7 linked regions of the Homo sapiens genome follow. The protein of the gene in region 2 purifies or fractionates together with the protein of the main gene of each other region. This does not show direct contact. Each region holds a gene or a part of one and is shown on either strand. Other genes may lie near its edges. The genes, in order: SUMF2, LYPLA1, ACADSB, MTHFD2, MSRA, TXNDC12 and MSRB2.

What was found.
Region 1: the proteins of LYPLA1 (region 2) and SUMF2 fractionate together in Homo sapiens (co-fractionation; one large-scale study listed by BioGRID). This does not show direct contact.
Region 3: the proteins of LYPLA1 (region 2) and ACADSB fractionate together in Homo sapiens (co-fractionation; one large-scale study listed by BioGRID). This does not show direct contact.
Region 4: the proteins of LYPLA1 (region 2) and MTHFD2 fractionate together in Homo sapiens (co-fractionation; one large-scale study listed by BioGRID). This does not show direct contact.
Region 5: the proteins of LYPLA1 (region 2) and MSRA fractionate together in Homo sapiens (co-fractionation; one large-scale study listed by BioGRID). This does not show direct contact.
Region 6: the proteins of LYPLA1 (region 2) and TXNDC12 fractionate together in Homo sapiens (co-fractionation; one large-scale study listed by BioGRID). This does not show direct contact.
Region 7: the proteins of LYPLA1 (region 2) and MSRB2 fractionate together in Homo sapiens (co-fractionation; one large-scale study listed by BioGRID). This does not show direct contact.

Annotation. Positions count from the first base shown.
Region 1 is NC_000007.14:56,074,286-56,077,727, forward strand, and holds part of SUMF2 (inactive C-alpha-formylglycine-generating enzyme 2 isoform b precursor), read left to right. Parts: intron 1-300; coding exon 301-451; intron 452-2,548; coding exon 2,549-2,604; intron 2,605-3,442. UniProt on the Homo sapiens protein: Lacks formylglycine generating activity and is unable to convert newly synthesized inactive sulfatases to their active form. Inhibits the activation of sulfatases by SUMF1.
Region 2 is NC_000008.11:54,091,948-54,095,447, forward strand, and holds part of LYPLA1 (acyl-protein thioesterase 1), read right to left. Parts: intron 1-3,500. UniProt on the Homo sapiens protein: Acts as an acyl-protein thioesterase. Hydrolyzes fatty acids from S-acylated cysteine residues in proteins such as trimeric G alpha proteins or HRAS.
Region 3 is NC_000010.11:123,015,506-123,019,005, reverse strand, and holds part of ACADSB (short/branched chain specific acyl-CoA dehydrogenase, mitochondrial isoform 1 precursor), read right to left. Parts: intron 1-3,500. UniProt on the Homo sapiens protein: Short and branched chain specific acyl-CoA dehydrogenase that catalyzes the removal of one hydrogen from C-2 and C-3 of the fatty acyl-CoA thioester, resulting in the formation of trans-2-enoyl-CoA.
Region 4 is NC_000002.12:74,205,115-74,208,614, reverse strand, and holds part of MTHFD2 (bifunctional methylenetetrahydrofolate dehydrogenase/cyclohydrolase, mitochondrial isoform A precursor), read right to left. Parts: intron 2,911-3,500; coding exon 2,726-2,910; intron 912-2,725; coding exon 789-911; intron 47-788; coding exon 1-46. UniProt on the Homo sapiens protein: Although its dehydrogenase activity is NAD-specific, it can also utilize NADP at a reduced efficiency.
Region 5 is NC_000008.11:10,052,944-10,057,091, reverse strand, and holds the start of MSRA (mitochondrial peptide methionine sulfoxide reductase isoform a precursor), read right to left. Parts: upstream 2,801-4,148; 5' UTR 2,576-2,800; coding exon 2,434-2,575; intron 1-2,433. UniProt on the Homo sapiens protein: Has an important function as a repair enzyme for proteins that have been inactivated by oxidation. Catalyzes the reversible oxidation-reduction of methionine sulfoxide in proteins to methionine.
Region 6 is NC_000001.11:52,038,192-52,041,691, forward strand, and holds part of TXNDC12 (thioredoxin domain-containing protein 12 precursor), read right to left. Parts: intron 3,407-3,500; coding exon 3,346-3,406; intron 1-3,345. UniProt on the Homo sapiens protein: Protein-disulfide reductase of the endoplasmic reticulum that promotes disulfide bond formation in client proteins through its thiol-disulfide oxidase activity.
Region 7 is NC_000010.11:23,116,079-23,119,578, reverse strand, and holds part of MSRB2 (methionine-R-sulfoxide reductase B2, mitochondrial precursor), read right to left. Parts: intron 534-3,500; coding exon of another isoform or gene 404-533; exon of another isoform or gene 276-403; coding exon 128-275; intron 1-127. UniProt on the Homo sapiens protein: Methionine-sulfoxide reductase that specifically reduces methionine (R)-sulfoxide back to methionine.

The sequences.
Region 1 (3,442 bases), on a different chromosome or scaffold from region 2:
TCTCTACCCCTCGTACATCCAGGAACACTGAGTTTCAAAGAAGGATAGGGGAATATCAGGGAAAGCGCTCAGCAGGCCTGTTTCACCTGCCCGAATCCTGTTTCCTGTTACCCATCCATTTCTCCCTTCAGCCTCCTGTAGTCTCTTTTTTCTGACTCCGACCACTGGTCACTCACCCGGCTCTCTTCCAGCTCTCTTGCTCCATCTAGTGGTAAAAGCTGAACGCGGGCGCCCTAAACCTAGCCTGCCTCCGACTTAATGCGCTCCCGGAAGCCTGTCTCACTTAATCCTGGCTGTCAGCCTGCAGGTCCTGGCTCTGGCATCCGAGAGAGACTGGAGCACCCAGTGTTACACGTGAGCTGGAATGACGCCCGTGCCTACTGTGCTTGGCGGGGAAAACGACTGCCCACGGAGGAAGAGTGGGAGTTTGCCGCCCGAGGGGGCTTGAAGGGTATCCAGATGATAAGGCGATTTTCCTTTATTCTTCTCCCCATCCTGCCCAGCATGAGGGGCTTTAAAGGGTGGAAAGGGGCTGGGCGCAGTGGCTTATGCCTGTAATCCCAACACTTTGGGAGGCTGGGGCAGGAGGATCGCTTGAGGCCAGGAGTAAAAGACTAGCCTGGGCAATATAGGGAGACCCTGTCTCTCCGAAAAATACAAAAATGAGCTGGGCCTGGTGGCATGTGCCTGTAGTCCCAGCTACTCAGGAGGCTGAGGTGGGAAGATCCTTTGAGCCTAGGAGTTCAAAGCTGCGGCGAGCTATGATCGCACCACTGCTGTCTGGCCTGAGTGACAGAACAAGACCCTGTCTCAAAAGAAAAAGCGGGGGGATGGGGCAGGAAGGGTCTGTGTTCCCTAGAGCAGTGCTTCTTAAGCTATCTGTGGTGGAGGACCAGTGTTTTTTTTTTTTTTTAATTTCTAGTCCATCTCAGACTGATATAAAATACCATAAAAATTAATAACTGGAAAATTGAAAGAACAGACATAAAATATTTTATTGGAAATTCCACAGACATGTTACATTTCAATAAATATAACTAGAGCAACATAGCATAAGGAAAAAGAATTACCAAGACTACACACTTCTGCCTCTGGGGTACAGAGATTAATGTTAAGAGTCACTGTTTGCGGCCGGGCGCAGTGGCTCACGCCTGTAATCAAAGCACTTTGGGAGGCCGAGGTGGGTGGATCACGAGGTCAGGAGGTTGAGACCATCCTGGCTAACACAGTGAAACCCCGTCTCTACTAAAAATACAAAAAAAAATTAGCTGGGCTTGGTGGCGGGCGCCTGTAGTCCCAGCTACTTGGGAGGCTGAGGCAGGGGAATGGCGTGAACCTGGCAGGTGGAGGTTGCAGTGAGCCGAGATCACGCCACTGCACTCCAGCCTGGGCGACAGAGTAAGACTCCGTCTCAAAAAAAAAAAAAAAGAATCACTGTTTGCTCCTAACTCGGTCATTTGTCATTCTGCAATCCTAATTACACAAAAAGTTAGGACAGCAAAAAGCAACTCCGCACATTAAACCCCTCTACACAATCTTTCAGTGAACACCAGGTACATCAGTGATCAAAGTTTTTTGTTTTTTGTTTTTTGTTTTGAGACAGTCTAGCTCTGTCGCCCAAGGCTGGAGTACAGTGGCACGATCTCAGCTCCCTGCAACCTCCGCCTCCCGGGTTCAAGGGATTCTCCTGCCTCAGCCTCCCTAGTACCTGGGATTACAGGCACCTGCCACCATGCCCGGCTATTTTTTTTTTTTTTTTGAGACAGAGTGTCGCTGTGTCGCCCAGGCTGGAGTATGGTGGCGCGATCGCGGCTCACTGCAAGCTCCGCCTCCCGGGTTCACGCCATTCTCCTGCCTCAGCCTCCCAAGTAGCTGGGACTACAGGCGCCCGCCACCTCGCCCGGCTAATTTTTTGTATTTTTAGTAGAGACGGGGTTTCACCGTGTTAGCCAGGATGATCTCGATCTCCTGACCTCCTGATCCGTCTGCCTTGGCCTCCCAAAGTGCTGGGATTACAGGCGTGAGCCACCATGCCCTGCATAATTTTTGTATTTTTAGTAGAGACAGGATTTCACTGTGTTGGCCAGGCTGGTCTCGAACTCCTGACCTCGTGATCCATCTGCCTCGGTCTCCCAAAGTGCTGGGATTACAAGTGTGAGCCACCGCGACCAGCCAGTGATCGAAGTTTTTAATATGACCTGTGAGGTTGCCTCTGGCTCATTCATTTATGCAATCTAAGTCCAATTTCAAGTTTCTCGATTTCTGTACTTTTCTCAACATGAACTGATAACAGATGCTTTATAAACTGGCTCAGGTCCCAGAACCATGCTTAGGATTACATTGCCCTGGAGCACATGAGGAGGCCAGGGCCCTCTAATGCAGTTCAGCGAGTGGAGAGGATGGGCATGGCAAATAAAAGCAGGTCATTCACTCTTTTTTCTCATCACCCTCTAACTTCCTTTTGATTCCCTCACTCTTTCTGTGTTCTTTTTTCCTTCCCTAATTCTTCACCTCCCCCTCCTCTGCTGCCTCCTTGCTCTCCTCGCAGGTCAAGTTTACCCATGGGGGAACTGGTTCCAGCCAAACCGCACCAACCTGTGGCAGGTAAGACCTACGTTCCTCCTTTCACCAAGCATTGACAGAGACCTGCTGGAGGCTGGGCACTGTGTTGTTAGGCCGCGGCATCCAGAAGGCTTGGGTTCTAATGCAACTGATGACTCATAAGCTGGTAAAGCAAAAGACAATGGGTCATAAGTGCTTTCTTTTTTTTTTTTTTTTTGAGACAGAGTCTCTCTCTGTTGCCCACGCTGGAGTGCAGTGGTGCGATCTTGGCTCACTGCAACCTCCGCCTCCCAGGTTCAAGCGATTCTCCTGCCCCAGTCTCCCAAGTAGTTGGGATTACAGGTGCCTGCCACCATGCCCAGCTAATTTTTTTGTATTTTTAGTAGAGATGGGGTTTTGCCATGTTGGCCAGGCTGGTCTCAAACTCCTGACCTCAGGTGATCCACCCGCCTTGGCCTCCTAAAGTGCTGGGATTACAGGCATGAGCCACCGTGCCCAGCCAGCGTAAGTACTTTCTATTAAAGAGTTGTAGGGCTGGGTGCAGTGGCTCACGCCTGTAATCCCAGCACTTTGGGAGGCCGAGGCGGGTGGATCACCTGAGGTCAGGAGTTCAAGACCAGCCTGGCCAATATGGTGAAACCCTGCTTCTACAAAAAATAAAAGATGAGCTGGGCATGGTGGCATGCACCTGTAATCCCAGCTGCTTGGGGCTTGGGCAGGAGAATCACTTGAACCCAGGAGGCGGAGGTTGCAGTGAGCTACCACTGTACTCTAGCCTTGGCGACAGAACGAGACCCTGCCTCAAAAAAAAAAAAGTGAATAAAAAATAAAACTAAAATAAGCAAATAAAAAAGCACTGTCCTGAGAAGGCCAGCAGGAA
Region 2 (3,500 bases):
CATGGTGGCATGCAGCTGTACTTCCAGTCACTTGGGAGGCTGAACCCAGGAGGTCAAGGCTGCAGTGAGCTGTGTTCACGCCACTGCACTCCAGCCTGGGCAACAGAGTGAGAGACCCTGTCGAAGCAAGGAGGAGGAGGAGGAAAAGGAGAAGGAAGAGGGGGAGGGGGAGGCAGCGGCGGCAGAGGAGATGGAAGAGGCAGAGGCGGCGGCGGAGGAGAACCCTGTCGAAGTCAGGGGGAGGAGGAGGAGGAGAAAGACGGAAGAGAAGGAGGAGGAGGAGGAGAAGGAGAAAGAAGGAAGAGAAGGAGAAGGAGGAGAAGGAGAAAGAAGGAAGAGAAGGAGGGGGAAGAGAAGGTGGAGGAGGAGGAGAAGGAGGAGACAGAGAGAGAAGGAGGAAGAGGAGGAGAAGGAGAAGGAAGAGGAGGAAGAAAGAAGAAAGAAGAAGAGGAGGCATGCAGACAAATTCCTTGGTCTCATTCCAGACCCACTCAATCAGAAACTGGCAGTGGGGCCCAAGAATCAAGTCTTTCAAGTGATTTTGATGCATGCTATAGTATGAGAATCATGCCTTTCTAGTTCTCAGTTTTCCCATCCATAACCAGGAGCTAGTTGTACTGGATGATTCGAAGGTCTATACAGGTTATAAAACTCTGACTCCAACCATATTAATATAAAAAGGATGGCCAAGCTGTAGCCAACTCTTTTGATAATTTTCAGTGACAATGAAAAACTCAAGATTTAAGAATTCTGGCTGGGTGTAGTGGCTCACACCTGTAATGCCAGCACTTTGGGAAGCCAAGGTGGACAGACTGCTTGAGCTCAGGAGTTTGAGACCAGCCTAGGCAACATAATGAGTCCCTGTCTCTACTTAAAAACAAAACAAAACAAAACAAAATCAGGACCTGTGTGGTGGCACGCACACATATTATTTCCATTTGTTCATTATCCTGTAGTAATATGGGTGTAGAACAGAGATTCTGTCTGGGTTTGTAAAAGAAACACCACTCATCCCCAACCCCATTCATGTAGCACGTTATTCTTATGAACTCTCCTATCAGTCCCAATCAGTCTTACCAACTAACTAGACAAGAAAAAAAATGACCTAAGACAGATCAGATTCTTGACTGAACACCAGAAGTAGGGTTGATATAAGTCAGAGCTAGGATCGTTCACTTGTGGATAACACGAGTGTGTCCACACTGAGAATTACGCAAATCTACAGAAAGAAGCAAGTGAGAGACCATAAGACCAGGGAAAGGTAGTGAGAATAATGGTGTAGTTGAACAGTGTTCCCCCCAAATTCACATCCACCTGAAACCTCGGAATGTGACTTTATTTAAAAATAGGCTCTTTGCAGATTTCCTTAGTTAAGAGTTGAGATCACACTTGATTAGGGTGAGCCCTAAATCCAATAACTGGTGTCCTCCTAAGAGGAGGAGAGAACAGAAACACAGCAAAGGTCACATGAAGACAGAGGCAGAGGTTGGGGGTATGGTGCCTGAGGCCAAGGAAAGCCGGGAGTTATCAGAAACGGAACAGGCAAGGACGGATCTTCCGTTAAAGAGAATGTATGTGGCCCTGTTGACAGCTTGGTTTTGGACTTTTGGCCTGTTTAACTGTGAGAATGAATTTCTGTTGTTTTTAATCCATCTAGTTTGTGGTTATTTATAATGGCAGCCTTAGGAAACTAATACATGTGGTGATTGATGCTCCTCGTATGTCTCACCCTTTAATTCTTTATTTATTCATTTATTTGTCCAACAAATACTTAGTGCTATTACATGTCCTATACTATTCTAGCACTGGGAATACAGTATTAATTTAAACAAAACACAAAAAATCCCTGTGCTGAGGTATATTTTATGGTATGTGAATTTTATCTTAATGAAAGTTTATTAAAGAAACCTTTGCCTTCATGGACTTTATATGCCAGTGGGCTGCCCTTCTATCCTTCCACAAATTCTAATTTTTGTTTAAGCTAGTTGAAGAGTTTTCTATTCCTTGTAATTAAATGATCTCCAAATCACATTCTATAATTCTATTATTAATAGTTCTTGATTACAGGAAGACTTGCAAACTTATTACGGTCACAAAACATATCCATGTTGCCAATTTATTTTAAATCCTCACCTTGTTTGACCTCTCAGTAAAATCTGATCCAGTCAACCACTTATTTTATCTTTCAAACATTCTTCTCTATACTTTTATAATCTCCTTGGTCTAGGAAATGTCACAGGGACTGGTAATACAGATAAGTAATTCCTGGAATACATCGGGGCTGGGGAGTAGCAGGGAGGGGGACACATGAAGAGAACCAAGCTTTCCACCAGGCCTTTCCTCCTCCTCGTTTCCCCTTAATTGGAACTGAGCTTTCAGGTGTGATATTCAGCAGATGGGGAGAGGTCCCATGAATGAAGCATAGCTGTGAGCTGGTGCAACTGGAGGGGCACACTCCACAGTTGCACTGTTGGCCAGAACCCCCCAAGAACAGAAGTCAGGTTCCTCACGGAATTACAAATATGGAAAGGGAGAAGGCTATAATAAACCCTGTGGTGCTGGGCTGCAATTGGAGGAATCATTATAAACTCAAGATTTTGAATACTTATAAATACTAAAACTGATATGTGTGTACATATGTATGTATGTCCATATATTCTTAGCTCTGTCCACTGCAAGGGTCTAGATCTGGGAGCACATATAGCATCCAGATCTCACTGTCTACTAAAAGGAACCAGGGTTCTTGGAAAAATGGCTGAGTCCAGGACTAGAGCAGGAAACATATAAGACAATCCTAGAAAAAGTCTTGTACCATAAAGTGAGGAAGTGATCAAATAAGAATGAGGATATGTCCAAAAGACACCAAGTACCAGCTTGAAAGGGTTACTGTGGCCAACTAAAGGACAATTTGAGCATCAAAATAAATAACTAACTTGATTGTTATCCTCTGAATACAATAGGAATCCAAGAGTCTGTACTGATTTAAAATTTTGAAACAAATGAGTATCTACATAAGTAATAAATAAAGGAGAAAGGAAAGCTCTACCCCACAGTAGACTGCTAAATAATAAATCCAGAATAAAGGAATTTTTTTTTTTTTTGAGACTGAGTCTCACTGTCGCCTAGGCTGGAGTACAGTGGCACCATCTTGGCTCACTGCAACCTCCAGCTCCCAAGTAGATGGGACAACAGGCATGCACCATCCTGTCCAGCTAGTTTTTTAATTTTTAGTAGAGACGAGGTTTCGTCATGTTGGCCAGGCTGGTACTGAACTACTGACCTCAGATGATCCTCCTGCCTCAGCCTCCCAAAGTGCTGGAATTACAGGCATGAGCCACTGCACCCGGCCAGAACAAAGGAAATTTAATTAAAAGACCATATTTTAACTTTAAATATTTAAATATCATAAGATATTCGGCAACTACCACAACAATAGATTCTGGCAATAATCATTAATGGGTGCTAAATCCATGGGTGAACATATGGTGGGGATCAGGAAT
Region 3 (3,500 bases), on a different chromosome or scaffold from region 2:
TGATTTTGATTTCCTAAGCCAAATTGTTCATACCTGCTTGATATGGTTTGGCTGTGTCCCCACCCAAATCTCATCTTGAATTGTAGCTCCCATAATCCCCATGTGTCATGGGAGGGACCCAGTGGGAGGTAACTGAATCATGGGGGCGGGTTGTTCCTGTGTTGTTCTCGTGATAGTGAATAAGTCTCACAAGATCTGATCGTTTTATAAAGGGCAGTTCCCCTGCACTTCTCTCTTGCCTGCTGCTATGTAAGACGTGCCTTTGCTCCTCCCTCACCTTCCTCACCACAATTGTGGGGCCTCGTCAGCCACGTGGAACTGCGAATCCATTAAATCTCTTTTTCTTTATAAATTACCCAGTCTTGGGTATGCCTTTATTAGCAGTGTACCAATGGATTAGATTTTAAGTTGATCCCAATTTTATATCCCCAAGCCAAAACTTCTATACCAGAATCTGTCCAACCTCTGCTTGCTTTCTCCATAAATAATAGCTTCTGTTCTAGGTATTCTCCAAAACTGCTAAAAACGCAACCTTTCCCATCTACCAGTCTCTGATTCTTCATTCTAGTCTTTAGGAGTTCCTAACAATGCCTTGCCCTTTTAAGAATTATAGTGATTCCCTCAAAAGAGGGTTAAATAAGCCAAGACAAGACACAAGGCAAGGGAATCAACACAAAGGAAATGGGTTTGCCTGTAGTGTGACCTTGGCCAAGTCAACAATTTCTCTTTCCCAAATTACCAGTGGACAAAAATGAAACCAGACACTCACTTCTATTTTCAAAGAAATTTTAAAAGATAGGATTATTATGGAGCTAAAGTATTTTTTAATCATGTGTAAACCAAAAATAAGATTCTAAGGCCCCCCAAACCAGCTGAACAGACTTCCTCCCTAGCCAGGGGTCTTAAAATTTCACCTGAGAGACTGTTTCAGGCCATGATGGGAAGTGGGGGTCGAACATACCTCATTATACCTCACCAGCATGAACATCAACACAGAACTTTAGGCCTAATAAGAAGCATTTCAATCCATTCTCTCTGAAGTCGGCTACCTGGAGGCTTCATCTGCATGATTAAACTTTGGTCTCTACAACTTCTTATCACAACCCAGACATTCCTTTCTATTCACCCCAGGTTTTTAGCCCAACTCAACCAATTGTCAACCAGAAAATGTTTAAATTTACCTATAGCCTGGAAGCCACCCCCGACTTTCATTATGGGAGTTATTAAAAAATTATTTTAGGCCTATAGAGAGGAAAAGGTGTCCTTGGGAAGTTTTTGTTTCTTTTAAAGCAGCTCCAGGAACGTTTCTTGTCTAGCAGGAAAGCCCGGCTCTTCAAGCTGGGACAGCAAGCTTAGACATGCAAATGCCGGCCATTAGAAACTGTGTCCACCCGGTGAGGTGGCTCACACCTGTAATCCCAGCACTTAGGGAGGCCTAGGTGGATGGATCACGTGAGGTCAGGAGTTCCAGACCAGCCTGACCAAGATGGTAAAATCCTGTCTCTACTAAAAATACAAAAATTAGCCGGGCATGGTGGTAGGTGCCTATAATCCCAGCTGCTTGGGAGGCTGAGGCAGGAGAATCACTTGAACCCGGGAAGAGGAGGTTGCAGTGAGCTGAGATCACGCATTGCACTCCAGCCTAGGCAACAAGAATGAAACTCTGTCTCAAAAAAATAAATAAATAAATATAAGGTAAAGGAGTTGGGCTTGCCTTTATTGTGACCTTAGCCAAGTCAACAATTTCTCTTTCCCAAATTACCAGTGGACAAAAATGAAACAAGACACTCACTTCTATTTTCAAAGAAATTTTAAAAGATAGGACTATTATGGAGTTTAAATTTTTTTTTAATCACATAATTACTTGGGTCCAACAACTTAACAGGCATTGGGAATTTCTTCAACTCACCCTCTTTTTCAGGGAAGATAGTCAGAAGAAACACTTAAATAGATGCCAAAAGACCAGAGTTCCATATCAGGGGTTGCATATTCAACACTGGCTGGGGACAGGGGGTTACCAAATTGAGTGAAGGGAGCATGAACCACGTTCACAACCTCCTCAGTATGCATTCCACCAGCTCCATTAGCTGGCCCTGCCATGTCTTGCACTTCTCAAAACACACCGCTTCTGCTCTCACAGGTTTGTTTTTTTTATGTGACACAAATTCTGTATGTTTGCTTTTAAATATCCTTTTCCTTCTTTTGCTCCAATTCTGAATAAAACACATATGTCACAGAATTTCCTCTGATATCCTACTAAGTCTCCTTTTGCTTCTTTGCTTCTCAACATTTACCCAGGATGGTCTGAACTGTACCCCAAAGGCTGACTTGTCCACTCCTGTTTCTTCACTATCCTTCCGATGCCCCATACCCATTTATGGTTTTGGCTAGCATTTATAGCTCTTAAAGCAAACTAAATATTGCCTGAGAAGGACTCCGTATGTCTATATTTGAGTCCTTGTGGATGAACTGTAACCTAGCTTAATAGGTAGACAAGATTGAAAGCCTAACTTAGGAGTATGCGCCTGTAACAGTAGCTGCGTCTTGGGCAATCCCAGCAGCCATCCTTCAACCACTCATGGACTGCTGAGTGTTCTAACTGTGTTCAAATAAGACAATTGCAAATCTGTAACCAATCCAGCCACTGTGTACCTCACTTCCGATTTGTCACTTCCCTTCATTTGTCTATAAATTTGTTATGACCACAAGGCATCCCTGGAGTCTCTCCAAATCTGCTGTGGTTCTGGGGGCTGCCCAATTTGCTGCTCAATTAAACTCCTTTAAATTTAATTCAGATGAAGTTTTCCTTTTACCATAGCTTTAGCACTGGTCCACTTTCTAGACCCATTTCTGACCAGCTTCTAAGACACTTTCAGTTGTAAGTTTTATTAATACCTAAAACGTGTCTAAAACAGAATTACCTTTCTTCTGTCACCCTAAATTACTTTTTCTCCAGATGTCCCAATCTTTGCCTATCACTAAGCTATTTCATTTAGAAAATGTGTAGTCCATCTAATTCCTCCATTTCAAGATAATTCCCACATCTTCTCAAGTCTTCTTTTATTAACATGTCTTCCTTTCTGATCATCGGTGCTATCACCCTCATTGAGGGCCTTGTTACTCTAAAAGTGGACTTGTGAAATGGTCTAAGTGGGATGTGGCTTCAGAGTCTCACGTGATGAGTTCCTTTTGTGAGCTGCTGACTGTTTTATCTTGTAAACTCCTTTGCAAACAGCACCTTAAAATCTCAATGGCTGCTATTGAAATCTTTCAACAAAAATCTTTGAAACTGTAGATCAATTTCTATAGCCAACAAACTGAGTATGGCAAATAGTTTTAGAGAGAAAGTTCCCTACCAGGTTATAAGGAGAAAGGCCACCTTTCCCCTCCTTCATGGAGTACACTGTTACACAGGTCTACATCCGTGGTTCTCAGTCCAGTAATTTTGCCCCCACGGGACATTTGGCCATGGATGGAGACATTTTGGGTTGTCATAGCTC
Region 4 (3,500 bases), on a different chromosome or scaffold from region 2:
TTGTCTGGAGAAACAGCATTGCAGATCCTTCTCTCATCAATATGCTCTGAAAAAGAAATTGGCACAGTTGCCTTAAATCACCACCGCATAGTCAGCACTGCCTGACTCCAGCTTATCTGCTTCGCAAGGAAATCTATTCTTCTACAGCTTGCCTCTGAGATGTACTTCATCTGCATGGAAGGAACTCGCATAAGCAAAGCCAAACACCAATAGCAAAGCCAATATCGTCTATCACAGCTGCTTCCCTCCACTGTCCTTTGTATCAAGACCACAATACTAAATCAAGGCGTAATTGGTATTCTGAGTTGGTCTGTCCCATTTCTAATAAAATATTCACTCTTTTGAGTTTATTTTGCCTTTAAGCCAAATCCACATGAAGAACCAGGTGTATAAAGTAACAAGGCCTTTTTACCCCTCAGAAACCATTTTAGGTAGGGCATGGTAGTTCATGCCTGTAATCCCAGCACTTTGGGAAGCACAGAGTCCAAGACCAGCCCAGGCAACACAGACAGACTTTCATTTCTAGGAAAAATGTAAAAATTAGCTGGGCATGGTGGACATGCCTATAGTCCTAGCTATTTGGGAGGCTAAGGCAGGAGGATCCCTTGAACCCAGGAGCTTGAGCATGCAATGAGCTATGATTGTACCATTGCACTCTAGCCTGGGTGACAGAGTGAGACAAGGAAAGGAGAGGGAGGAGGAGGGGGATGGGGAGGGAGAGAGAGAGGGAGGGAGAGGGAAAGGAGCAGAAGCAGCAGCAATCATGTTAAATGGAGTCCAAAACTCACCTGGAAGAGGCAACTGAACAAGGAGGCCATCTACATTATCATCATTATTCAGTTTATTGATTAAATTCAACAATTCTTCCTCTGAAATTGAAGCTGGTTTCATAATTGTCTCACTGTTGATTCCTATTATAAGAAATTTTGAGGTTAAAAAAATTTTTGAGGCATTTAATGAGCACTGCTATGTTGCCTACCATACTTGGCTACCATACGGGTTTTGTATCATCACACTCATCCCTAAAAGCTGAAGTAGCTCAAGGAACCTAAAAAAGTAACTTCACAAATATATACACCAGAGAATACTAGCTTAACACATCCTGTATACCTCATTCTATGCAATCTTCATTAACCTTATTTTACAGACAGACTGAGGCTCAGAGAGGTTTAAAAATAAGCGAGCTAGGCCAGGCACAGTAGCTCACGCCTGTAATCCCAGCACTTTGGGAGGCCAAGGCCAGCGGATCACGAGGTCAGGAGATGGAGACCATCCTGGCTAACACGGTGAAAACCCGTCTCTACTAAAAATACAAAAAATTAGCCAGGCTTGGTGGAACGCGCCTGTAGTCCCAGCTACTTGGGAGGCTGAGGCAGGAGAATCGCTTGAACCTGGGAGGCGGGGGTTGCAGTGAGCTGAGATCGCACCACTGCATTCCAGCCTGCGCAACAGAGCGAGACTCCGTCTCTAAATAAATAAATAAATAAATAAGCGAGCTAATAATACAGCCAGTCTTTCTGGTTCCAAAATCCATGTTCTTTTTTTCTGCACCACACTACCTCCCAATGTCTTAAAATGCCATGGCTTGGCCAGGCACAGTGGCTCACGCCTGTAATCCCAGCACTTTGGGAGGCTGAGGCAGGCGCAGATCACCTGAGGCAGGTGGATCACCTAAGGTCGGGAGTTCGACACCAGCCTGACCAACATGGAGAAACCCCATCTCTACTAAAAATACAAAATTCGCCAGGCATGGTGGCCCATGCCTATAATCCCAGCTACTCGGTAGGCTGAGGCAGGAGAATTACTTGAACCCGGGAGGCGGAGGTTGCGGAGAGCCGAGATCACGCCGTTGCACTCCAGCCTGGGCAACAAGAGCGAAATGCCGTCTCAAAAAACAAAACAAAATGCCATGGCTTGCCATTATCTAGAGGTTTCTAAAGGCTTTCAATTAAAAGAGCAGGAGGCCTCACTCCTCAATAATAAAGAACAGAGAAAACCACAGGCTTACAGGCCAGTAACCCCACCCAGCCACGCGAGTGGTTTCACAGCCCTTCGAAGGAAAGGCCACCTGCTGCTCAGACCACAGGCCCACAGATGGGCAGGCAGAGGCATATCTGAGCCTGCCCACCCACCTCTTGTCCACAGAGACACAGTAATCTGTGGTACCGTGAGACCTAGAACACAAACCCCATCATCCAGACCTGAACTGCTTCTAAACTGCATGTTTGGCTTTAGAACCAATCGGTGAAGAACTTGAAAGCTATTTCCCAGAAGTCAGAGTCATTTCCTTCAAATCTACGACTGTGTTCCTGACCTCATCACTGAGGTCACCTAATACTGTATTGCTCAATCATGCCCCCTAAGCCTCTAAGGCTTTAAGCTGCAAACACTCAAACACCTCCACTGGAGACCCATTATTGCTCAAGGAAAGCAAATGTAAAATGCATTCAGGGTCACCTATCAAATATAAAGACTAAGAACAGAATGTAGCTTATATTCTTTCCAGAAGCCACAGAGAATACCAACCAGTATCTCCTGTCCTACTGTATAAACCCCGAAAGATATAGTCTGATTTCCTATGACAAAGTTTTGGGATACAGTTCAATCACATTAGCCTCCTCTGCTTGGGTTTCCTAATCAGAAAAAAGAAATCATAAATTAGAATGGACTTTGCCTCATATAAACCTCAACTGAACCGCAGTCGAGGTCTCAGAAGGACACATACCCACAACTGCAGCTGCCCTGGTTTTGTTGAGGACATAGGAGTGACTTGCAGGATTCTCGCCAACCAGGATCACACTCAGGTGTGGCCGTTTGTTGCCTGAGGCCACCCACTCTTCTACCTCCTGCCGCACTTCCTGCTTGATCTGCTGGGCCAGTTTCCTTCCAGAAATGACAACAGCTTCATTTCTGCAGAAGGCAACAGAGTCACAAAACCAAATAACTTGAATTTTTATAAAAACTAAAACTCTGCCAGGTGTAGTGGCTTATGCCTGTAATCCCAGCACTTCGGGAGGCCGGGGCAGGAGGATGGCTTGAGCCCAGGAGTTTGAGACTGGCCTGGGCAACATGGCAAAACCCTGTCTCTGCTAAATAAATAAATAAATGAATGAATATATCCAGCTACATATGGAGGGGGATAAAGTTGATAGAAATCATTATTATCATTAATTTGAAGCTCAGGGAGTTTAAGTGACTGACAGCGCTTGGTCAAGCTGAGTCTCACATCAGTCTGGGCTCTTAACTGCTACACCACCCTGCGCCCTGATCATTACTAAGTGTTTTACAGTTTTAATTTGCAATTGTTTGACCCCTCACCATGAGGTTAAATAGTTTTTCTTATCTGCTTATATGCCATTTGTAGTTCGTGTTTTGTCCCTGTTGTTAGCAGCCAGGCATGTATTTCAAATCATTTCCCAGTCAACTGACTTCATTTTTATGGTGGTTTAAATCGATAAATTATATTCTGTAGTTGAATAAACAAACAATATAGGCCGGGC
Region 5 (4,148 bases), about 44 Mb from region 2:
AGGTTTGACTCTTTCCTTCTTGCAAGGTGGAAATCTTGGTCACAGTGTGTAAAAGGGTGGAATTGTCCTTAAGAATATAAAAATGGTAGGATGAACGCTAAGATGGTAATCCTTAACACCTCAAGTATTTGGTAATGGTACACACCTGATACTAGGCTTATCTAAACGCACTAAAGAAACAGGCCTTCTGCAGTCAAAAGGTGATGCTTTTGTCACGCAACTTTTGAGGGTCAGGGTACAAATAAGAACAGACATGGATGGAGGTAATATAGAGAAGGGAGGAGTTGTTAAACAGGATCCAAGTTGCAGTGGAGGTGAATTCCACATTCAGAACAATACTAAATCCTTAAGTTTCAAGTTTACAGCTACTGAAACCCACTGAAGAGGTAACACTGCCCATTTCTGGAGCCAGTCAGGGCTTTCAGCAACCTCTCAAGGCTCAGAAGTGGAGACTGGAACGTCCACAATCTAAATTTCACACACTTTTTGTGGAAAAAGTTACAATAGATGAACAATAAGGACATATGCATTGTAGGCTTGGCCCTACACCAAAAAAAAAAAAAAAAAGTTTACTGGCCCAGATACAGAGATGTGTTGGTGTACCAAAAACACTCACAGCTATATGGAGACAGCAGAGCCTGGAAAAGAACCAGGTCCTGAGGTTTTGCAGTTAAAAGTTATGATGGGGATAAGAAAAAAATTGTTGGCTCATTTCTGAAATGTTTGCTCATCTTTTACCAAAAATGTCATTTACATATTAGGAAACTGATTGGGAAGACTTTGGTTAAGATAAAGCCAAAGTAAATTTTGGTCCATCTTGACCTTGAACCAGTTTGGAAATCTGAACAAGAGTTTTTGGATTATTTGGGGTTTTTTTTTTTTTTTTTTTTTTTGGTGTATGGGAGGGCATAGCAAAGACACGGCAGTGTGTGAACGGGAAGTATAGCACAAGCTGAGGAAGTCTGGCATTTGAAAAGTATCGCCTTTAAACATGCACGTATAAATTCCTGCCTGTAAAAGAAAGAAAAAATTTTAAGATGCATTTATAAGTTTTAGATAATCTGGTTATATTTTATAAATCTATATATAAGTATAGATGTTTACTAATCTAGATTTGTTTCAAAACTCAATCTCTGCATTTGAATCAAAAATAAACTTTTACGGCTGAGTAGCAGGTGAAATGATGGGGAAACCAGGAAACAGAAACTGCTAATTCGATTAATAATAAGCCAGTCACACGATTTCTAAACTGCCTCTAATCCAAAAAACCTCTACCTTTTCTAATCTCATACTGATTATTCTACGAGATGACAAACTCTCAATATGACCTCCTCCTATCCTCAACAATTCTTGAAGGAAAAGAAAAAGAAACTTCTAAGGAAATTTTTTAAATGCTGAATTTCTCTGGCATTGAGCCATGTGTAGATTAAACATCACTTAATCCTCCAACAGCTCTAAGGCAGTGGTTTACAAGCTACAGCGTACATTACAATCACCTGGAGGACTTGTTTTAGAGATTGTTGGGCTCCACCCCCAGAGTCTCCGATTCAGTAATGGGGGAACGCCCACCCAGGTGGTGATGCTGCTGCTGCTGCGGCAGGTGGGGGCACTCTGAGAAGCGCTGCACTAAGGTAATATTAACGTGTGGCCCTCGTTCTGGGAAACGCGTGCTGTCTGCAGCAGAAATTGCCAAGATTTTGAAAACTTTTATAGCAGTTTACCATTACATGGCATCGAAGCACGTGAACATTTTTCTAGTATTTCACCCTTATTGTATTTTCCCAAAGTACTGATGTGAGAACGACTAGAAAGTTGTCCAAGTTTGTGGAGCATCGCTTTAAGCTGACCCAGCATACGGCAGCCCCTGCCCCTGGGGACAGCGGGGCCGACCTAGGGCACGAGGGGTGACTAGGGGTGACTCAGCCAGAACACTGGCCTGAGACGCAGTTCCACACTTAAGGTTTTCATCGTCTCGTCTCATTCCGGCATTTCCCGGGACAACACTCGCACCAGCCCCGCTGCAGGTGCCCTGGGTCCCGGCGGCCGGCGCAGAGGAGACAAGAAAGGAGGGCGCAGGCACAGCGCCGCGGGCGCCCGCGAGCAAGGCCAGACCCCAGCGGCACATTTCCTGCCCAAAACTTGGGGCCGCGACGGTATGCACTCCGGGTAAGTGAGACCGATGCACTAGATTCCTTCAGAATGCCCAGTTTGGCTCCAGAAGATGACGAGCCAAACAAAGACAAAGGGACGTCAGTGGACCCCAGCGTCTCCCCGGCCACTGCCGGCGCCCCTTCGCGCCTGCGCAGACCCCCACCCCGCGACCCGCCCGAGGCCAGCCCACGGCTTCCTTCCGGGCAGCGGGCGCGCTGCCGCCGGGCAAAGGCGCGCATGCGCAGCGTCGCCGCCCGCGCCTTCCGTGTGGCCAGTGCTTACCCGCTACAGGGGTCTGTTCCTTCCGGCCCGGCAAGGCCTCCTGGGGGCTGACGATGTTCGAGGCCGAGTTGCCCATCCTCGGGACGGGAAAGAGGCTGTGGAGGAGGAGGAGCTGGCAAGCCCTCCGGGTGGCCGAGAGCATGGGAGGGCGCCAGCCGAAGGGTGGTCCCGGGGGACGGCGCTACCGGCAGCGGAGCCGCAGCCGGAACGGCAGAGAGTGGGGTCCGCGGCCGGAACCGGGGGGCGGCAGGGGCGCGGGCGGGCGGGCGCGGGGCGCTGCTGGCGGGGCTGGAGGCCGCCCGTAATCGAGGTTGCCCAAACCCGGGGCCGTACCGGCTGTCACCGGGGGCGTGTTCCTTCCCTGGACAGGGGGTGTGGCCCGGCGAGTTCCTGAGGTTCTCTCGGGACGAAGTTCTCGGACAGAGAACAAGTGCGCTCCTGTCGTACGAAGTACGTGAAGCTGCAGAGGCCAAAAAACACGCCGAGCCCTTGGGGATGCGGTTTGATTTTAAAGTTGCTGCCGTGTCGCCCCGACTTCGCAGTTTAGCAGTGCCCAGTAAGATAGAAGAGGACCTGCCTTGCAGCCAGCTAGACTGTCAGTTTTTATTGGAGACATTGTCATGACGGCCATCAGAAGGGTTGCTATTCGTCCAAAGTGAAAACTAAGCACAGTTCTCAAAATGCGCGGAATAGGGAAGATGAATTCAATATTAAGTTATGTATTTACAAACATATTTAAGCCCATTTTGCAGCGGCCAAAATACGGGAGCAAGGCACCAACAGCACCATTAAGGCAGTGTAGGTGGACTTAATGGTGGTGTTGTATTATTCTTGTTTCTCAAATCATAGGAGATGACATTTGTTCCTGTGACATTCTCAAACTAAATGTAAAGTGGTTGGAGCGAGGTGAGTGACTTGGGAGTTCATCTGTGTGAGATTTTGGCTTAACACATGTTCTGCCAAAATGGGCAGGTCGTCTCAGATGAGGGAGGGAACTTCAGATTAGCACCCACAGAAAGGAGGCTTTCACCCAGCTTCTTGCATGGATTTAGTTACCACTTTGTTTTCATGTGGTCTGGACTGTAAGGAGGGCAGGAGGCTTAGCAGTGCTATAGTGTAGAATGAGGTGTGTTGCCAGGCATACAACACTAAAAAGGCTCTAGCTTTGATTTTGTAATTTGTATTTCCCCTGGACAAAATGATACCTAAACTGTTTGTTATTGCTATGAGGCTATACCAAGTCGGTTCCACAGGCCTTTCATGAAAACACCCCCAGGAGTCCCTTCTAGGCTTGCGAAGGCCTGGTCACTATTAAGGGTCTGAAAAAATAGTCATTCTGTCAAAGACAATATTTTGTGTTTTTCAGTTACTTCTTTTTGATACATACTGATTTGTCTGTGTTTTGTGGTTGATTGTATGAAGTTTCACATGCTAGAAATACTCTGCAACTAAGAGCTGAAGAATGTTTAGTGTGAAGAAATAACTTACTTGGCATGATGGCTCACTCCTGTAATCCCAACACTTTGAGAGGCTGAGGCAGGAGGATTGCTGGAGGCCAGGAGTTTGAGACGCCATCTTTACCAAAAAAAAAAAAAAAAAAGGTATTTAAGTAGTTGGGCATGGTGGTGTGGTAGCGCACACCTGTGGTCCCAACTACTTGGGAGGCTGCACCAGGAGGAACGCTGGAGCCAGAGAGGTAGAGGCTGCAGTGAGCT
Region 6 (3,500 bases), on a different chromosome or scaffold from region 2:
TACCTTAATCTGCATTAAACACCTGTTCAGGCAGATATCCTTTCTCTTCAATGATTTTCTTAACGGTGTCTGAGAATTCATCTGCTGCCTCTTGGTCAGCATAAGCTGCTTCTCCTGTATCTTGTTTTTTTTTTTTTTGAGACAGGGTCTCACTCTGTCACCCAGGCTGGAGTGCAGTGGGGGGATCTCGGCTCATGCAACCTCCGCCTCCCAGGCTCAAGCGATTCTCCTGCCTCAGCCTCCCAAGTAGCTGGGATTATAGGCATGGACCACTACCACCTAGCTAGTTTTTGTATTTTTTGTAGAGACGGGGTTTCACCATGTTGGCCAGGCTGGTCATAAACTCTTGACCTCAAATGATCCACCCGCCTTGGACTGCCAAAGTGCTGGGATTACGGGCAACACTGCGCCCAGCCTGTCTTGACATTTTTTAAGCCAAACCTCTTTCTAAAATCAGCAAACCATCATTTGTTGTCATTAAATACTCCAGCTTTAGATCCTTCACCTTCTTTTTGCTTTAAGTTGCCATATAATGACTTTGCTTTTTCTCAAATCATATTAGAGTCAATAGGTATGCCTTTTTATAGTACCCATGTAAAAGCTACATATTATGCACATAAAAAGGCATTTGGCAAAAAGTGCAAGGTTTTTGCACCTGTTGGCATAGCTACAGTGACAACTTCATGAATTTTCTTTTTTTTTTCTTTTTCTGTTTTTTTTTTTTTTTTACGCAATTGGTCCTTACGCTGGATTTATCTTTAAAAAAATTTTTTTTTGTAGAGACAGGGTCTTACTTTGTTGCCCAGGCTGGTCTCAATCTACTGGGCTCAATCAGTCCTCCTGCCTCAGACTCTCAAAATGGATTCATCTGGCCAGGCCAGAGCAAGACACCGTCTCAAAAAAAAAAAAAAAAAAAAGGGTTCATTTATCTTGAAACGACAAGCAACTACCTGTGTAGACCTCAGTCTACAGTACATATCAAGCAATTCAATTTTTTCTTGTAATGTCATGAGCATTCTCTGCTTCTTGGGAACACTTCCAGCATCACCAATGGCACCTTGTATGGGTTTCATGGTGTTATTCTAGGTTTATGATATTGTACTAAATACCAGGAAAAATATGCAAGAGTTGTAAGAGATTAATTTTTTTTTTTTTGAGACCAAGTCTCGCTCTGTCTCCCAGGCTGGAGTGCAATGGCGTGATCTTGGCTTACTGCAACTCCGTCTCCCAGGTTCAAGCGATTCTCCTGCCTCAGCCTCCCAAGTAGCTGGGATTACAGGCATGCGCCCACCATGCCCAGCTAAGTTTTTTGTATTTTTAGTAGAGACAGGGTTTCACCATGTTGGCTAGGCTGGTCTCGAACTCCTGACCTCAAGTGATCCACCCACCTCGGCCTCCTAAAGTGCTGGGATTACAGGTGTGAGCCACCGCGCCCAGCTGAGAAACTACGTTATACTGCGATACGCAATACACTGGAGAGACGTACTGCTCACTGAAGATGATTAATGTTGCACGGCATTTTAAGTGGATACTCACAATACTTGAGTTCACCTCCATAGCAACAGGAGGTGGCCACAAAATTATTAGTAATGTTATATACTACAGTTAATTTTTATGCAGTTATGATTTAATATGGCATCTTTACATTTGTTTACATTTCTCCCTTCTGCAAATGGCAGCATGTGTGGTCTATAGGTGTTTGTGTGCAGAAGTTTTTTATTTTTTTATTTTTATTTTTATTTTTTATTTTTGTTTTTTAAGACAGAGTCTCGCTTTGTCTCCCAGGCTGGAGTACAGTGGTGCAATCTCAGCGCACTGCAACCTCCACCTCCCGGGTTCAAGTGATTCTCTTGCTTCAGCCTCCCCTAGTAGCTGAGACTACAGGTGCACACCACCATGCCCAGGTAATTTTTGTATTTTTAGTAGAGACGGGGTTTTACCATGTTGGCCAGGGTGGTCTTGAACTCCCGACCTCAGGTAATCTGCCCGCCTCAGCCTCCCAAAGTGCTGAGATTACAAGCGTGAGCCACCATGCCTGGCCAGAAGCTTTTTAGACAGGGTCTCACTCTGTTTCCAGGCTGCAGTACAGTGGCATGGTCTTAGCTCACTGCAGCCTCAAACTCCCAGGCTCAATTGATCCTCCCACCTCAGCCCCCTCAAGTAACTGGTATTTTTTGTAGAGAAGGGGTTTCACCATGTTGCCCAGATTGGTCTCAACCTCCTGGGCTCAAGTGATCTGCCCGCCTCAACCTACCAAAGTGCTGGGATTACAGGCATGAGCCACCGCACCCAGCCAGTGTGCAGAAGTTTTGATAAATTTTAACTTGTAGATTTCTGTATGTTTTATGGTAGTAAATGATAATATAGACTAATACCTACATATATTTTTACACTTGTAACATACCAATTTTTTAAGTTTTTTGATATTTCTAGGCTATGCTGTTCATCTGCAAGTTTTTTGAAACTGCTTGAAATCTCCAAAACAGTTTCCAATGCATTTATTACTGAAAAAAATCCACATATAAGTGGACCTGTGCAGTTCAAACCCATGTTGTTTGGCCGGGCGTGGTGGCTCACATCTGTAATCCCAGCACTTTGGGAGGCCGAGGCAGGTGGATCGCCTGAGGTTGGGAGCTCAAGACCAGCCTGGCCAACATGGTGAAACCCCGTCTCTACTAAAAACTACAAAAATTAGCCGGCAATGGTGGCACATGCCTGTAATCTCAGCTACGTGGGAGGCTGAGGCTTGACAAGAATTGCTTGAACCTGGGAGGTGGAGGTTGCAATGAATGAAGATCGCACCACTGCACTCCCGCCTGGGTGACAAAGCAAGACTCTGTCTCAAAAAAGAAAAAAAAAGGCCGGGCGCGGTGGCTCACGCCTGTAATCCCAGCACTTTGGGAGGCCGAGGCGGGTGGATCATGAGATCAGGAGATTGAGACCATCCTGGCTAACACGGTGAAACCCCGTCTCTACTAAAAATACAAAAAAATTAGCCAGGCGTGGTGGCGGGTGCCTGTAGTCCCAGCTACTCGGGAGGCTGAGGCAGGAGAATGGCGTGAGCCCAGGAGGTGGAGCTTGCAGTGAGCCGAGATCGTGCCACTGCACTCCAGCCTGGGCGAGAGAGTGAGACTCCATCTCAAAAAGAAAAAAAAAAAAAGAAAAAAAACCCATGTTGTTCAAGGCTCAACTATAAATGTTAGCCATTATTATTGCTGTTGTTGTAATTAGGCAACTATTCAGTTCTTGCTCTGCCTTGGTATAGCCCTTCACCTGAAATTAACGTTAAGTTGATAGCTGAAAAGTGTTTTACCACCATAAATGACCTAAAACCATGTCTTGTACCTGGCAGCTGCTTCTTTCTTCCCATCTTCCAGTGTCCTCCAATGAATATGATCTCCAAAACCTGGAAGGAAAGAACTTTATAAGCATTCACATAATGAACAAAGGGCACAGTCCCAAGAAGGAAGTGTGCATGTTCACAAGATACCCACTAAGAA
Region 7 (3,500 bases), on a different chromosome or scaffold from region 2:
CCCCATGTGTTCTGAAGACAAAAGAAAGTACCCCTATAAAAGGACACCAGATTTGCCAAGAACAAGAGAGCTCTTTGTGGCATTGGGGGCAGCATCAGGGAAAGTAAAACAAAATGAGAAACCTCACCTGCTTGCAGACAACCTCTGTGCGAGCTGATCCTAACGAGGTATCCAGACGTCTCAGGATCCCTGTGTGGCTTTCATCAGAGCCAGACGTACCATGAGCCTCGGAAAACGAAGGCCACCCAGTGCCAGAGCAGTACTTTTTCTCAGAACTGTGGAAGACATAAACGATACTACAGCTGCTAATGACACTGTCATTAACATGCCAAGAGGTGCCCCGATGTGTTGTTCCAGGCAGCAGGATCTGTTCCCACTCTCCTCTGCCAGATCCCATGCCCAGTTATTCGACAGTCAGTCCCCCCGGAATCGTCCTCACTGCACCTTCACTATCGAAGCCATTGCCTCTCGAAGTGGAAGGACTTCTTGATCCTTTGATGCTAAAGACTTCTTTCTGGATATCCAACAAGGATCTAAAAACACATGGTGTTTTGTGAACTGTGTTGCATATTAGGTAACACAGATCAAACCCATGTGTTGAAAATGTCAAAAGGGGAGAAATCAAAACGAAATACTAATGCTCGGAGGAAGTCATCATCATCTTAGAGCAGCGCAGAAGTGTAAGGTCTGATGAGAAAGTCATGCTTGGCAACAGGAATTTCAGGTTATCTCAACACAGACGCCTGACCAGGGATTCAAAAGCTGCCTCTGGCCACTTCTTAGCTGTGTGAAACCACAGCTCTTGAAGCCTCAGTTTGCTCACCTAGCAAATGGGAATAATATCTACCCTACAGGGCTGTTTTGAGGATTTGAGGGGAAACTGAAGTGTGACATAAAGCTTAGCACGGTGCTGGGCACATGGTAAGTTCCCTGAATGCTTGCTGTGATGGTGATGATTAGTATTAATTAATACGCCTGGGTACCTGGCATCAATCACTGCAGTGAAACCTAACCCTCCAGAAGTCTCCCAGGGACTCATGATGCTGGCACAAGGAGAAGGACAGCAGGCAAATCCACTCACCAAAGACCCACCCTCTAAGTGCTCTCATGGATAAGCTCCCTTAAATGGCACTGGGAAAATAGACTTCAAAAATTGCTGTGGCAAGGAAATGGCTCTCTCTATCTAAGGAAGAAAGAGAAGAACTGAATGTTAGACCCAGCCAAAAAAAAAAAAAAAAAAACAAAAAACTAATCTAAGAAGAAAAAGTAGCAAAGAATCAAATCCCTAGACTATGAACACAGAAGGAAGCCTAGCTGGCAGCACAAACTCCCACAGAAACAATTGTGTAATGCAGCAATTCTCAAACATTTTGGTCTCGGCACCCCTCATGTCCCCTCTGTGTCCCCAAAATTAATAGGGATTGCTGAGAGCTTTTGTCTGTGAGTTACGTATGTCAACATTTAACAAATTATACATTATAAATGAGAATTTAAAAATATGTGTGCATTAATTTTTTTTTAATATAGGTTGAGTGCCCCTTATCTGAAATGCTTAGGACCAGAAGTGTTTCGGATTTCAGATCTTTTTGAATTTTGCATTTTACTTGATGGCTAAGCATCCTTAATCTGCAATACTCCAGTGAGCATTTCCTTTGACTAGCATGTTGGTTCTCAAAAAGTTTCGAATTTTGCTGGCGTGGTGGCCCACGCCTATAATCCCAGCTTTTTAGGAGGTGGAAGCGGGTGGATCACTTGAGCTCAGGAGTTCGAGACCAGCCTGGCCAACATGGTGAAACCCCCTCTCTACTAAAAATAGAAAAACTAGCTGGGCATGGTGGTGCATGCCTGTAGTCCTAGCTACTTGGGAGGCTGAGGCAGGAGAATAACTTGACCCCAGGAAGCAGTGGTTGCAGTGAGTGGAGATCAGTCAACAGAGCGAGACTCTGTCTCAAAAAATAAAAAAGTTTCAGATTTGGGTGCATTTCAGATTTCGAATTTTCAGAGTAGAGATGCTCAACCTGAAATAAATTTATTATATGTTAACATAACATATATTTAAGGCAAATAATTATACTTTTCAAAATGAAACAAACATTTCATGAGAAGAGTTGCACTGTTTTACAATTTTGCAAGGCTCTTTAACATCCGGCTTAAAAAAAAGACAACTGAATCTTCATATGTGCCTCTGAATTCAGTCTGTTGCTATGTTGTTTTGATTGGAGTATAAGAGGATGTGGCCTCAAGTGGTCTCAAGTGTGGTTGGAAAAGCCCCTAGAAAGGTCCCCCCCAGGAATCTCTGGGGTCCTCAGACCAGGCTTTAAGAACCACAGGTATAGCCATTAGAGGAAGGGCTTTGACTTCTGAAAGATTTGTGTGTGAATCTGGGATCTGTCTGTTACATCTGTATCACCTTGGCAAGTCATTTAATTTTTTGAAGCCTCAGCATCCTAGTCTATAGATAAGTATAAACTAAAAATAAAGTTCTAAGCCACCCACTGACTGAATAGAGCCCTTCTTGGCCAAGAGGACTCCAGAAAAACCTTTAAATCGAGTTTCCGGTCATGATGGGACAGGAGGTCAGACACACCTCATTATACCCTCTCCCTTTTGTGGTTTAGACACAACAAATGACCAGCATTAATGTTTAAATAGAGATCATAAGACTGGCAGAACAGCCTCTTTGTGGCAATAATATACCAAATTATAAACAGGACCTAAGGCCATGCCAGGCGAGGGTGAAGTCATGCACCCCTACACTTAAAGAATCAACTCTAACTGCCACAGGGGTTTTCTTCTTCTCTAGCAGCTAAACAATCACTGGCCTTGAGATAAGCAGTGTTGAAGCAATTGCAGCTCATCTACCATCAGACACTGACTAGCTGAGACCCTCTGTTCCACCAGCCGTAACTACAGCTTTGATTGCACAAGAGACTGATTTTAGTAACTTTCTCCTGATTAAAAGACCATGAAGTGGTTCTGGATGGTTTACAGAGGCTGTGCACTTGTGGGCCTTCATATCCTGAAAGACCTTTTGATGTATAGGATCTAATTATAATACATTTAAATGTTAAGTTTCTACCCCCAAATAAACATAGGTCATATGTTACATGCATGTTTGTTCAATATGTGTATGTCAGGACCATCTTCACAAATTTTCATAGCCCCTTCTGTGATCTGTTAAATAGGTATATTTAGCCAACCCTCTCAGCATAAAGCTCCTACCCCAGCTGCTCCCCCTTCCAAGTGCCTGCATCTGCTCTTGGCTGGGAGCTCGCTTCCCAGCCTGTAGGATGGCCACCTTGAAGGCTGTAACCCTTTAGAAGAAATAAAGTCTCCTTTTCTAAATTTATAGATTGTATGATTGTTTTAAGCTAACAATAGCAATGGCATTATCACCTCACTTTCTGTGTGTGTGCTTAGCATAGTACCTGACACATGGCACTTGAGTTGGTAGCTATTTTTTAATATTTTTTTATTATTAATACCAGAAATCTATGGAA